Regions from separate parts of the Homo sapiens genome. Here region 2 is linked to region 1. The links come from fine-mapping of genetic effects on gene expression. A gene starts in region 1. The other region holds a variant in brackets. All regions are shown on one strand. Distances are from middle to middle.

Region 1 (5,260 bases):
GAATCTTTAGTTACAATGCAAACATCCCAGAAAGAATACCATATTACCATTATCAATTATTAGAAATTCTTAAGGAGGCTGGGTGCGGTGGCTCACGCCTGTAATCCCAACACTTTGGGAGGCTGAGGCAGGCAGATCACCAGAGGTCAGCAGTTCAAGAGCAGCATGGCCAACATGGCGAAACCCCATCTCTACTAAAAATACAAAAAATTAGCCAGGCATGGTGGCAGGCACCCGTAATCCCAGCTACTCAGGAGGCTGAGGCAGGAGAATCGCTTGAACCCAGGAGGCGGAGGTTGCAGTGAGCCAAGATCACACCAGTGCACTCCAGGCTGGGTGACAAGAGTGAAACTTCTTCTCAAAAAAAAAAAACAAAAAAAACTTAAGGAATAGTTATTATCATCCGATATGATGGCTTATTAAGAAGGAAGGGAACACATGATAGGTCTGTTTTGAAAAGGAATGGGGACAGAACAAAATGTTACACAAGGTCTGATCAAAAGAGGCTTGTTCTGGCTTGTCTTTGTCTGTCTTGGAGTCACGGGACAGGTGTAAGGCCAAATTGTGCACTTCCCAGTCATGTTACCTTGGGCAAATAATTTGAAATCTGTAGTTTCCCAATCTGAAAATTGAGTCTGATACCTGTTCTAATTTAGTGTTGATTGATATGAACCTCAAAATTAGAAACGTATGAAAGTTCTTTGCAAACTAAAATATATGTGTGAGGAATTGTTATTATTAGTTTAGAGGATGGACTGTTGTCCTTAGAAGGCAAGTCTCTGGGTCCTACAGTTAGATGCACTGGGCGCTTCGGGAAGAATTTAGGGCTATGGGGTACTCAGCAATTAAAAGAGAGGGTGCTTAGAGAAGAAAGAAAGGACTTATTAATGGAGTTTGGAGGCTCCTTATTATCGAAACTTACACATTACGTGACCAGCATTATGAGGCAGCACCCCACTCCCAACAAATAGCCCTCTAGAACCAAAAGCAGAGTGGCAGGTCCGGGGTCCTTTTGTACATAGACAGCATAAAAAATTGACTAAGTCAATCCTGGCATAACTGCAGACCAGGCCCTGGAATGAGCAACCCACCAGCATTATCTGCATTTCTAGGAACTTGGGCTAGAAGGGGAGGAATGGGGTTGGAAGGGTTAGGCCACATGCCTCTAGTTAAAACCTGATGAACTTCCTAGATCCCCAGCTGGAAAACGTAGGAGTTGGACTAAATTCCTCTCCTGCCTCTAATATTTTATGAATACAGAACTCAACTCAAACTGGGTAGTATCTCAGAGATTCCAAATTTAGTTCCACTTTTCTGTTTGCTTATCAGTCGCTTACCCTCACCCTCTGGTCTGATACCTTTATCCTGTACAAGTGGTCAAAGTAGGTTGAGTAACATGTGCTAAAAGGAGTAATATCTTGCATTCTCCCTTGTTATTAAAATAGAGGAAACTGCCTTGAAAGAAAAGACTAAAAAGCAATAAGCCTTAGTATCAGTATCTTCTGAAAGCTTTAAAAAAATAATACTCTCATCTCTACCAACAGATTTGGATTCTGAAGTTCTGAGGTGGAGTCCAAGAGTGTGCAGTCAGCTTCTGGGGTGGTGTTTGTTAGATACAGTTTTTTGTTTATTTATTTATGTTTGAGACAGGGCCTCACTCTGTCACCCAAGCTGGAGTGCGGTGGCACAGTCATGGCTCACTGCAGCCTTGCCTCCCAGGCTCAAGCAATCCTCCTGCCTCAGCGTCCCCAGTAGCTGGGACCACAGGTGTGCACCACCATGCCTGGCTAATGTTTTAAAACTTTTTTTTGTAGAGACAGGGTCTTACTATGTTGTCCAGGCTGGTTTCAAACTCCTGGAATCAAGTGATCTTCCTGCCTTGGCCTCCAGAAATGCTGGGACTATGCCTGGAATAGATATGGGTAAAGAACCTTTTACATCAGACTCTTGTGTCCTACTCCCAGAATGCTGATTCAGTAGCCTGCAAGTGAGGCCTAGAAATCTGCATTTTCACAAGCTCTCAGGTTTAATACACAATACATTTAAAGAAAGCACAGCCCAAAGGGTGTCAGTGGGGTGTATGAAGGAAGCCTGGTTAGTGGGGAGAGTGGGATTAGGGAACAGCTGCTTAACCTGGCTTGTTTCAAGTCCCCCTTTCTCCCTTTTTGCCCTCAAAAAGTTCCCCTCATTTTTTCCCCTCTACTTTCTAATTTTTTACCATGCACTCACACAGCTATACAGCTATCTCCAGAGATTACTCTGGAAACTCTGCTATAAAGATGACCTGGTCTAATGCCTTGATTTGTTTTTTTTTTTTTGAGACAGGGTCTCACTCTCCTGGAGTACAGTGGCGTGATCATGACTCACTGCAGCCTTGACCTCCTGGGCTCAAGCAATCCTCCCACATAGCTGGGAGCATAGGCACATAGCACACCACTCTCGGTTAAATTTTTTTTTTTTTTTTTTTTTTTGTAGAGATAGAGTCTCACTATGTTGCTCAGGCTGGTCTTGAACTCCTGGACTCAAACAGTCCTCCCACCTTGGCCTCCCAAAATGCTGGGAATACAGGCATGAGCCACTGCACCAGGCCTAATGTCCTGATTTTATAAATCCCAAAACTGGGGCCCAGAGAGAAGAGAAATCATTAAGATCACCATACTGCTTGGTATCTAAAGTAGTACTGACCCTTTTGACACCTAATCCAAAGTTTTTTCAGCTACCTCAGGTTGCCCCTCATCTTCCAGCTGACACCATCCAGCACCTTTCAGATACTGGCAAAGGAGCAGTGTTTCAAAATTACTTTCCAAATGGCCTCCTAAAAGGCAGTCCTCAGAGAGAAGCAAGGTTCTGCATCTTAAGCCTTCCTTGGTTTCTTAGGTTCCAAAGCTGTTTCTATCAGTCTCCAAGCAACCAACTCTTTAGAATTCCATGAGTCTACTCAGAGAACTTGTGGGTTCAGTCGGGGGTATATCTTCAACCATTTATTAAATTTCCTTCTTTGTAAACTGAGCTTTGAGAAATTGCATCTTATTTATTGATTATTTATTGAATGGTAGTTTCATGGAGTTTTTGGTCTTTTTTCTTTTTTGAGACAGTCTCACTCAGTTGCCTAGGCTGGAGTGCAGTGGTGCGATCTCGGCTCACTGCAACCTGTGCCTCCCAGGTTCAAGCAATTCTCCTGTCTCAGCCTCCCATTACAGGCCACACCACCATGCCCCACTAATTGTACTTTTAGTAGAGATGGGGTTTCACCATGTTGGACAGGCTGTTCTCAAACTCCTGACCTCAAGTGATGTGTCCGCCTTGGCCTCCCAAAGTGCTGGGATTTGCAACTGTGAGCCACCACACCTAGCCTCTTGGTCATTCTTTGAAAAATAAACCTCAGCCAGGCGCGATGGCTCACGCCTGCAATTTCAGCGCTTTGGGAGGCTGAGGTGGCGGATCACCTGAGGTCAGGAGTTAGAGACCAGCCTGACCAACATGGTGAAACCCCATCTCTACTAAAAATAGAAAATTTAAAAAGAAAATCACCTGGGCCTGGTGGCGCATGCCTGTAATCCCAGCTACTCGGGAGGCTGAGGCAGGAGAATCGCTTGGACCCAGGAAGCAGAGGTTGCAGTGAGCCAAGATCAGGCCATTGCACTCCAGCCTGGGCAGCAAGAGTGAAGTGCAGTCTCAAAAGATAAAAATAAAAAAACCCTCTAGATATATGCAGCTCCATATTCTCCCACCACAAGGGTTTATAAATCCTGAGAAAGAGGCAAAGCAGGGAACACATGACCACATAGTTCTGGCAGGCGTCAGATTACCAGGCTGATAAAACAGATGGTAAAGTAGAAGCTGTCCGTCGACTTTTCCATTCCCCTTTCAGCTCCTCCACTGCTACTTAATCTCCTTTGCCCACACAGTTCAATCCCATTTTCCCTGATCTCTAAATCCTGGCTAGATTATTAGCCATTAACACTAGCTTTTACAAGGAGACTCTTCAATCTTGTATTTCTAATAGTATAATTTCACACGTACAGAAATTCTTTAAGTCATAGAAGTCTTACAGATACAGAAATTCTGATCTTCAAGAGTCCCTTTGTGAAACAAACTAATTTATCCTGACAGCAGGAAAGATTTCTGGGCCTAAGGCTCTGTCTCGTTGACCCAGGTCATGCTATTCAGGTGGTCCATCTCTTGGTTCCAAGCAAGACTGCTGCTGCTGACCAACCTGAATATGGACTTTAGCACTTGAGCTCAAGCTGCACTCAGATGGTTAGACCCCCATAAAAAGCAGAGGGTACGTTTTCTGTTATGAAAAGTAAAGACTGAGCCAGGCGCTGTGGCTCACGCCCATAATCCCAGCACTTTGGGAGGCAAGTTGGGCGGATCACGAGGTCAGGAGATTTAAACCATCCTGGGTAACACGGTGAAACCCCATCTCTACTAAAAATACAAAAAAATTAGCCAGGCGTGGTGGCAGGCGCCTGTAGTCCCAGCTACTTGGAGGCTGAGGCAGGAGAATGGCATGAACCCGGGAGGCGGAGCTTGCAGTGAGCCGAGATTGGGCCACTGCACTCCAGCCTGGGCGACAGAGCAAGACTCCATCTCAAAAAAAAAAAAAAAGAAAATTAAATACTAAAAAAATTAAACATTATAACCCTGCTAAGGCAGGAGGATCATTTGAGCCCAGGAGTTTGAGGCTGCAGTGAGCTATGATGGCACTACTGCACCCCAGCCTCAGTGACAGAGGGAGACCCTGTTTCTAATAAATCAAAACCCTGTTGAAGGTTCCTCAAAAAATTAAATATAGAATTACTATGTGATCCAGCAATTCTACTTCTGGGTACATATCCAAAAGAATTGAAAGCAGGGACTTTAACAGATATTTGTATACCCATGTTCATAGCAGCATACTCACAATAGCCAAACGGTGGAAAGAACCCAAATGTCCATCAGTGAATGAATGGATAAACAAAATGTGGAAGATACATACAACAGAATGTTATTCAGCCTTAAAAAGGAATGAAATGGGCTGGGCGTGGTGGCTCAGGCCTGTAATCCCAGCACTTTGGGAGGCCGAGGAGGGTGGATCACCTGAGGTCAAAAGTTCAAGACCAGCCTGGTCAACATGGTGAAACTCCATCTCTACTAAAAATACAAAAATTAGCCAGGCGTAGTGGCAGGCGCCTGTAATCCCAGCTACTCAGGAGACCGAGGCAGGAGAATCTCTTGAACCCAGGAGGCAGAGGTTGCAGTGAGCCAAGATCTCGCC
Region 2 (5,494 bases), 32 kb before region 1:
GTCTCCTGGCTGTTCTCTGAGTATCCTCTCTCCACATAATGAAGCTTCCTTCTGTGTCCTCTACATGAAATGGCCTTTCGTACTTGACACAAATTCTATCCAATTTCCAGGCCCAGCTCAATTTGTGCTGCTCCATAACTCTTTCTTGACCTATCCAGGCCACCAGGTCATACCCAAGTTTATAAATTCCTCCTGGTCTGTACCACTTACTTTAACTGTTAATCCTATGATACCTCGCATTGTTAAATATTTGAGACTCTAATTCCATTGCCCAGTGACCATGTCTCCCATTTCTTCTGTCTTTCAGAGTCATCCAGCACACCTATTGCTACATAGTTTTTATTGTTAAAATATTTAATAGCTGTAGGCCGGGCGCAGTGGCTCACGCCTGTAATCCCAGCACTTTGGGAGGCCGAGGTGGGTGGGTCACCTGAGGTCTGGAGTTTGAGACCAGCCTGGCCAACATGGTGAAATCCCATCTCTACTAAAAATACAAAAAATTAGCCAGGCGCGGTGGCATGTGCCTGTAATCCCAGCTACTTGGGAGATTGAGGCAGGAGAATTGCTTGAACCCAGGGTGGGGGAGATTGCAGTGAGCCAAGATCATGCCATTGCACACCAGCCTGGGCAACAAGAGCAAAACTCCGTCTCAAAAAAAAAAAAAAAAAATATATATATATATATATATATATATTATAGCTGTAACGTATTTTATCAAATAGGTAAATGGTTTTGACTCTTCATGAATTATTGGATGGGTTGTTTCCAGATTTTAGCTAGCATGGCAAACACTGTAGATAACAAATGCTTAGATTTAATGTTAGTTTAGTTTTGTTTTGTTTTCCTTTTGAAGCATTCCCTTGGCCTAATAATGATAGTTTTGGAATAACCTTGCTGAGGATTTTACGTAGGGAAGATATTATGATCTTCCTTTCCTATTTTAAGAAGCTGAGGTTCAGAGAGGTAGGTAAATTGCTTCAGATCACATAGCCCGTAAGCAGAGGAGTCAGGTTTCAAATCTAGCCTACTAGATCACAACTCTGGAGCACTTAACCTCCGTGCCACACTGGCCTTGGCCCAAGCACCACTCCCTACCACTCACTTTGTTGGCCTTGCCTCTCCAAGGAACAGGTAGGCCTCCTTATGTGTAAGGATGAAGGAGAGACCATTATTCCATATGTTTCTATCCTGCTAGTGTCAACTCCTGCCCGGTGTCCAAGGTGCCCATGCAGACCAGATCTGACTTGTTTCTCTTTACTCCTTAACACCCAGCACATAGCCTCTCTCCCTAGGGCATGATTTCTCTTACTGTCTTCCATGTGTAAAAGTGACCGTATTGTATTTCTTTCTGTTAAGGGCAAGTTCTTTTTTGTGTGTTTTTTTTCTTTTGTTTTGTTTTTTTGAGACAGGGTCTTGTTCTGTCGCCCAGGCTGGAGTGCAGCACTGGCACGATCATAGCTCACTGCAGCCTCAACCTCCTGGGCCCAAGTAATCCTCCTACTTCAGCCTCCCAAGTAGCTGGGACTACAGGTGCATGCGCCACCACACCCAGCTATCTGTTTTTTATTTTTAATAGAGATGGGGTCTCACTATGTTGCCCAGGCTGGTCTCAAACTCCTGGGGTCAACAATCTGCCTGCCTTGGCTTCTCAAAGCGTTGGGATTACAGGTGTGAGCTACAGCACTCAGCAAAGGCTCAACTTTCATCTAGATGCCATTAGGCCAGAATCAATAACCTCCCTCAAATTACGTGACACATGATTAATATGCTATCACTCCAGGACTTTTTGCACATAAGGCTAAATGTAATTGCTTCATCTCTTCACAACCATGAAGGCAACGTCTTCATGAAGGCAAGTTAAGAGAAAGAGGGTGGTCACAAGATGATGTTTTCTCCTGAAACAGTGGCTACTCCCACTGGCTGAAAATAGAAAGGCTAGAGCAAGACGGCCAAACAGACCCCTCCAGCGATTGTCTCCATGCAGGAACACCAAACTGAACAACTGTCCCCACAAGGAAAGCACCTTTAGGCCGGATGCGGTGGCTCACGTCAGTAATCCCAGAACTTTGGGAGGCTAAATTGGGCAAATCACTTGAAGTCAAGAGTTCAAGACTGGCCTGGCCAACATGGAGAAACCCCATCTCTACTAAAAATACAAAAATTAGCTGGGCGTGGTGGTGGGGGCCTATAATCCCAGCTACTTGGGAGGCTGAGGCAGAAGAATTGCTTGAACCTGGGAAGCAGAGGTTGCAGTGAGACGAAATGGTGCCACTGCGCTCCAGCCTGGGTGACAGAGTGAGACTCCTTATTTAAAAAAAAAAAAAAAGCATCTTCATAAGAAACAAAAAATCAGGTGAGTGATCACAGTACCTGGTTTTCACATCGTATCAAGAAGAGGCACTGAAGAGGGTGGGAAAGACGGTCCTGCATCGCCTATGCCCCCCTCCCTCACCTCTGGCACAACAGCTTGGAGAGAGAATCTGTGCATGTGGTGGAGCGAGAGGAGTGTGGGATTTTGCATTGGAACTCACTGCTGCCCTGTCACAGCACAGCACTACACTGAGCAGAATTCTGCTGGCACCCACAGAGGACACATTTAGATCAGCTCTGGGCCAGAGGAGAATCCTCAGGTAGAGTGGGACAGACCTGAGTCCCAGCTGGTTCTGCCACC[A/G]GCTGACCAAAGTGGCCTGGGGCCCTGAATACATATGAGTGACAGTCAGGTCACAAGGACTATATTCCTTAGGCAAACCCTGGAGATGCACTGGTCATGGAGGCAGTGGACTTTGGGTGTGTGTGACCGCGTGTGACACCAACTGTGGTGAACAAGGGAGTGCCTGCATCATTCCTCCCCCAACTCCAGACAGGGCAGCTCAGGGAGAGACTCCTACTTGGGGAAAGGAGAGGGAAGAGTACTCAAGTTGCAAGACAAAGTCCAGAAGACTTTGAGTAGCAGCTCAGCCACAGGAAAATAAAGCACCAGGCAGAATCCTGAGGCTCCTGATTCCAGGCCTTTGCTCCTAAGCTACATTTCCAGACCTACCCTGCGCCAGAAGGGAATCCACTGCTCTGATGGGTCAGATTTATCCTGGCAGGATTCCCCACCTGCTGACTAAAGTGCCCTTGGGCTTTGAGTAAATATCAGTGGTAGCTAAGCAGTTCTGGCCACAGGCCTTGGGCAGGATCCAATACTGTACTGGTCTGCAAAGCTTCAGGTGTGACCCAGTGCACTGCCATCTGTGGTGGCCATGGGAGTGCTCATGTCACCCTTCCCCCCAACTCCAGACAGCCCAGTGGGGAGAGAGATTCCTGACTGGGGGAAAGAGAAGAGACAAAGTGAGAGATGTTGCCTGGGTAACCGGGGAATTTTCCCTTATCTTACCCAAGGCCACCAAAGATACAGGAGTATCCAGGAGTTGGCAACAGTTGCAGGGGTCATAGGCTTAGGGCACCCCCTGGTATACATCAGCTGCAGAGACCGTAGGCTTAAGTCACAGCACTTAATCCCCTTTGAATATATAGAAAGCCTTCTCAAGGAGGATGGGTACAAATAAGTCCAGACTGTAAAGACTTGGAATAAATACCTAACTCTTCAATGTCCAGACATTGATGACCATCCACAAGCATCAAGAACATCCAGGAAAACATTATTTCACCAAATGGACTAAATAAGGCACCAGTGACCAATCCAGGAGTGACAGAGATATGTGACCTTTCCAGACAGGGAATTCAAAATAGTAGTCTTGAAGAAGCTCAAACTTCGAGATAACACCGAGAAGAAATTCAGAATTCTATCAGAAATTTCAAAAAGAGATTGAAATAACAAAAATCAAGCAGAAAGGCTGCTCTGCCTATGGAGTAGCCATTCTTTTGTTTCTTTACTTCTCTAATAAACTTGCTTTCACTTCGCAAAAGAAAAAAAATCAAGCATCACTTCTAGAGCTGAAAAATTAAGTTGACTAAAAAATGCATTGGAGTCTCTCAACAGCAGAATTGGTCAAGCAGAAGAAAGAATTGGTGAGCTTGAAGACAGGTTATATGAAAATACACAGTCAGGGCCAGGCAGGATGGCTCATGCCTGTAATCCTAGCACTTTGGGAGGCCAAGGCAGGTGGATCACCTGAGATCAGGGGTTCGAGACCAGCCCGGCCAACATGGCGAAACCCCATCTCTACTACAAATACAAAAAATTAGCCAGTCATGGTGGCAGGTGCCTGTAATCCCAGCTACTTGGGAGGCTGAGGCAGGAGAGTTCCTTGAACCTGACAGGCAGAGGTTGCCACCGTACTCCAGCCTGGGTAACAGGGGCAAAACTCCATCTCAAAAAAAAAAAAAAAAAAAAAAAAGGAGTGATTTAGGATGTCCCCAGATAAATGCCCTTTAGCCTGTGACGTAAAGAATCTTTAGTTACAATGCAAACATCCCAGAAAGAATACCATATTACCATTATCAATTATTAGAAATTCTTAAGGAGGCTATGCGCGGTGGCTCATGCCTGTAATCCCAACACTTTGGGAGGCTGAGGTGGGCAGATCACCTGAGGTCAGGAGTTTGAAATCAGTCTGGCCAACATGGCGAAGCCCCATCTCTACTAAAAATACAAAAAATTAGCGGGTGTGGTGGTGGGCATCCGTAATCCCAGCTACTCAGGAGGCTGAGGCAGAATCGCTTGAAGCTGGGAGGCGGAGGTTGCAGTGAGCCAAGATCGCGCCACTGGACTCCAGCCTGGACGACAAGAGCGAAACTTCATCTCAAAAAAAAAAAAAAAAAAAAAACTTAAGGAATAGTTATTATCTGATATGATGGCTTATTAAGAAGGAAGGGAACACATGATAGGTCTGTTTTGAAAAGGAATGGGGACAGAACAAAATATTACTAGGTCTGATCAAAAGAGGCTTGTTCTGGCTTGTCTTTGTCTGCCTTGGAGTCACGGGACAGGTGTAAGGCCAAATTGTGCACTTCCCAGTCATGTTACCTTGGGCAAATAATTTAAAATCTGTAGTTTCCCAATCTGAAAATTGAGTCTGATACCTGTTCTAATTTAGTGTTGATTGATATGAAGCTCAAAATCAGAAACATGTATGAAAGTTCTTTGCAAACTAAAATATATGTGTGAGGAATTGTTATTATTAGTTTAGAGGATGGACTGTTGTCCTTAGAAGGCAAGTCTCTGGGTCCTACAGTTAGATGCACTGAGCGCTTCGGGAAGAATTTAGGGCTATGGGGTACTCAGCAATTAAAAGAGAGGGTGCTTAGAGAAGGAAGAAAGGACTTATTAATGGAGTTTGGAGGCTCCTTATTATTGAAACTTACACATTACGTGACCAGCATTATGAGGCAGCACCCACTTCCAACAAATAGCCCTCTAGAACCAAAAGCAGAGTGGCAGGTCCTGGGTCCTTTTGTACACAGCATAAAAAATTAAGTCAATCGGCCAGGCGTGGTGGATCATGCGTGTAATCCCAGCACTTTGGGAGGCTGAGGCGTGTGGATCATC

What was found. PIP is the estimated chance that this variant, and not a neighbour inherited with it, causes the effect. A credible set is the group of variants that fine-mapping cannot tell apart.
Region 2: its variant is the best candidate, but not a certain one, in a credible set for the expression of HEATR4 in testis (GTEx, PIP 0.66).

What each region holds. Positions count from the first base shown.
Region 1 is chr14:73,556,066-73,561,325 of GRCh38, forward strand. HEATR4 (HEAT repeat containing 4) reads right to left here and starts at 2,882. Exons shown (of 18, transcript NM_001220484.1): 1 at 2,686-2,882. RefSeq lists an enhancer at 3,714-3,883.
Region 2 is chr14:73,523,643-73,529,136 of GRCh38, forward strand. All of the region lies in intron 2 of HEATR4 (HEAT repeat containing 4), which reads right to left. It also overlaps a transcript of ACOT1 not described here. Among named protein-coding and RNA genes, the nearest start is that of ACOT1, 11 kb to the right of the region's middle. The variant A/G (reference allele first, on the strand shown) is at 2,672.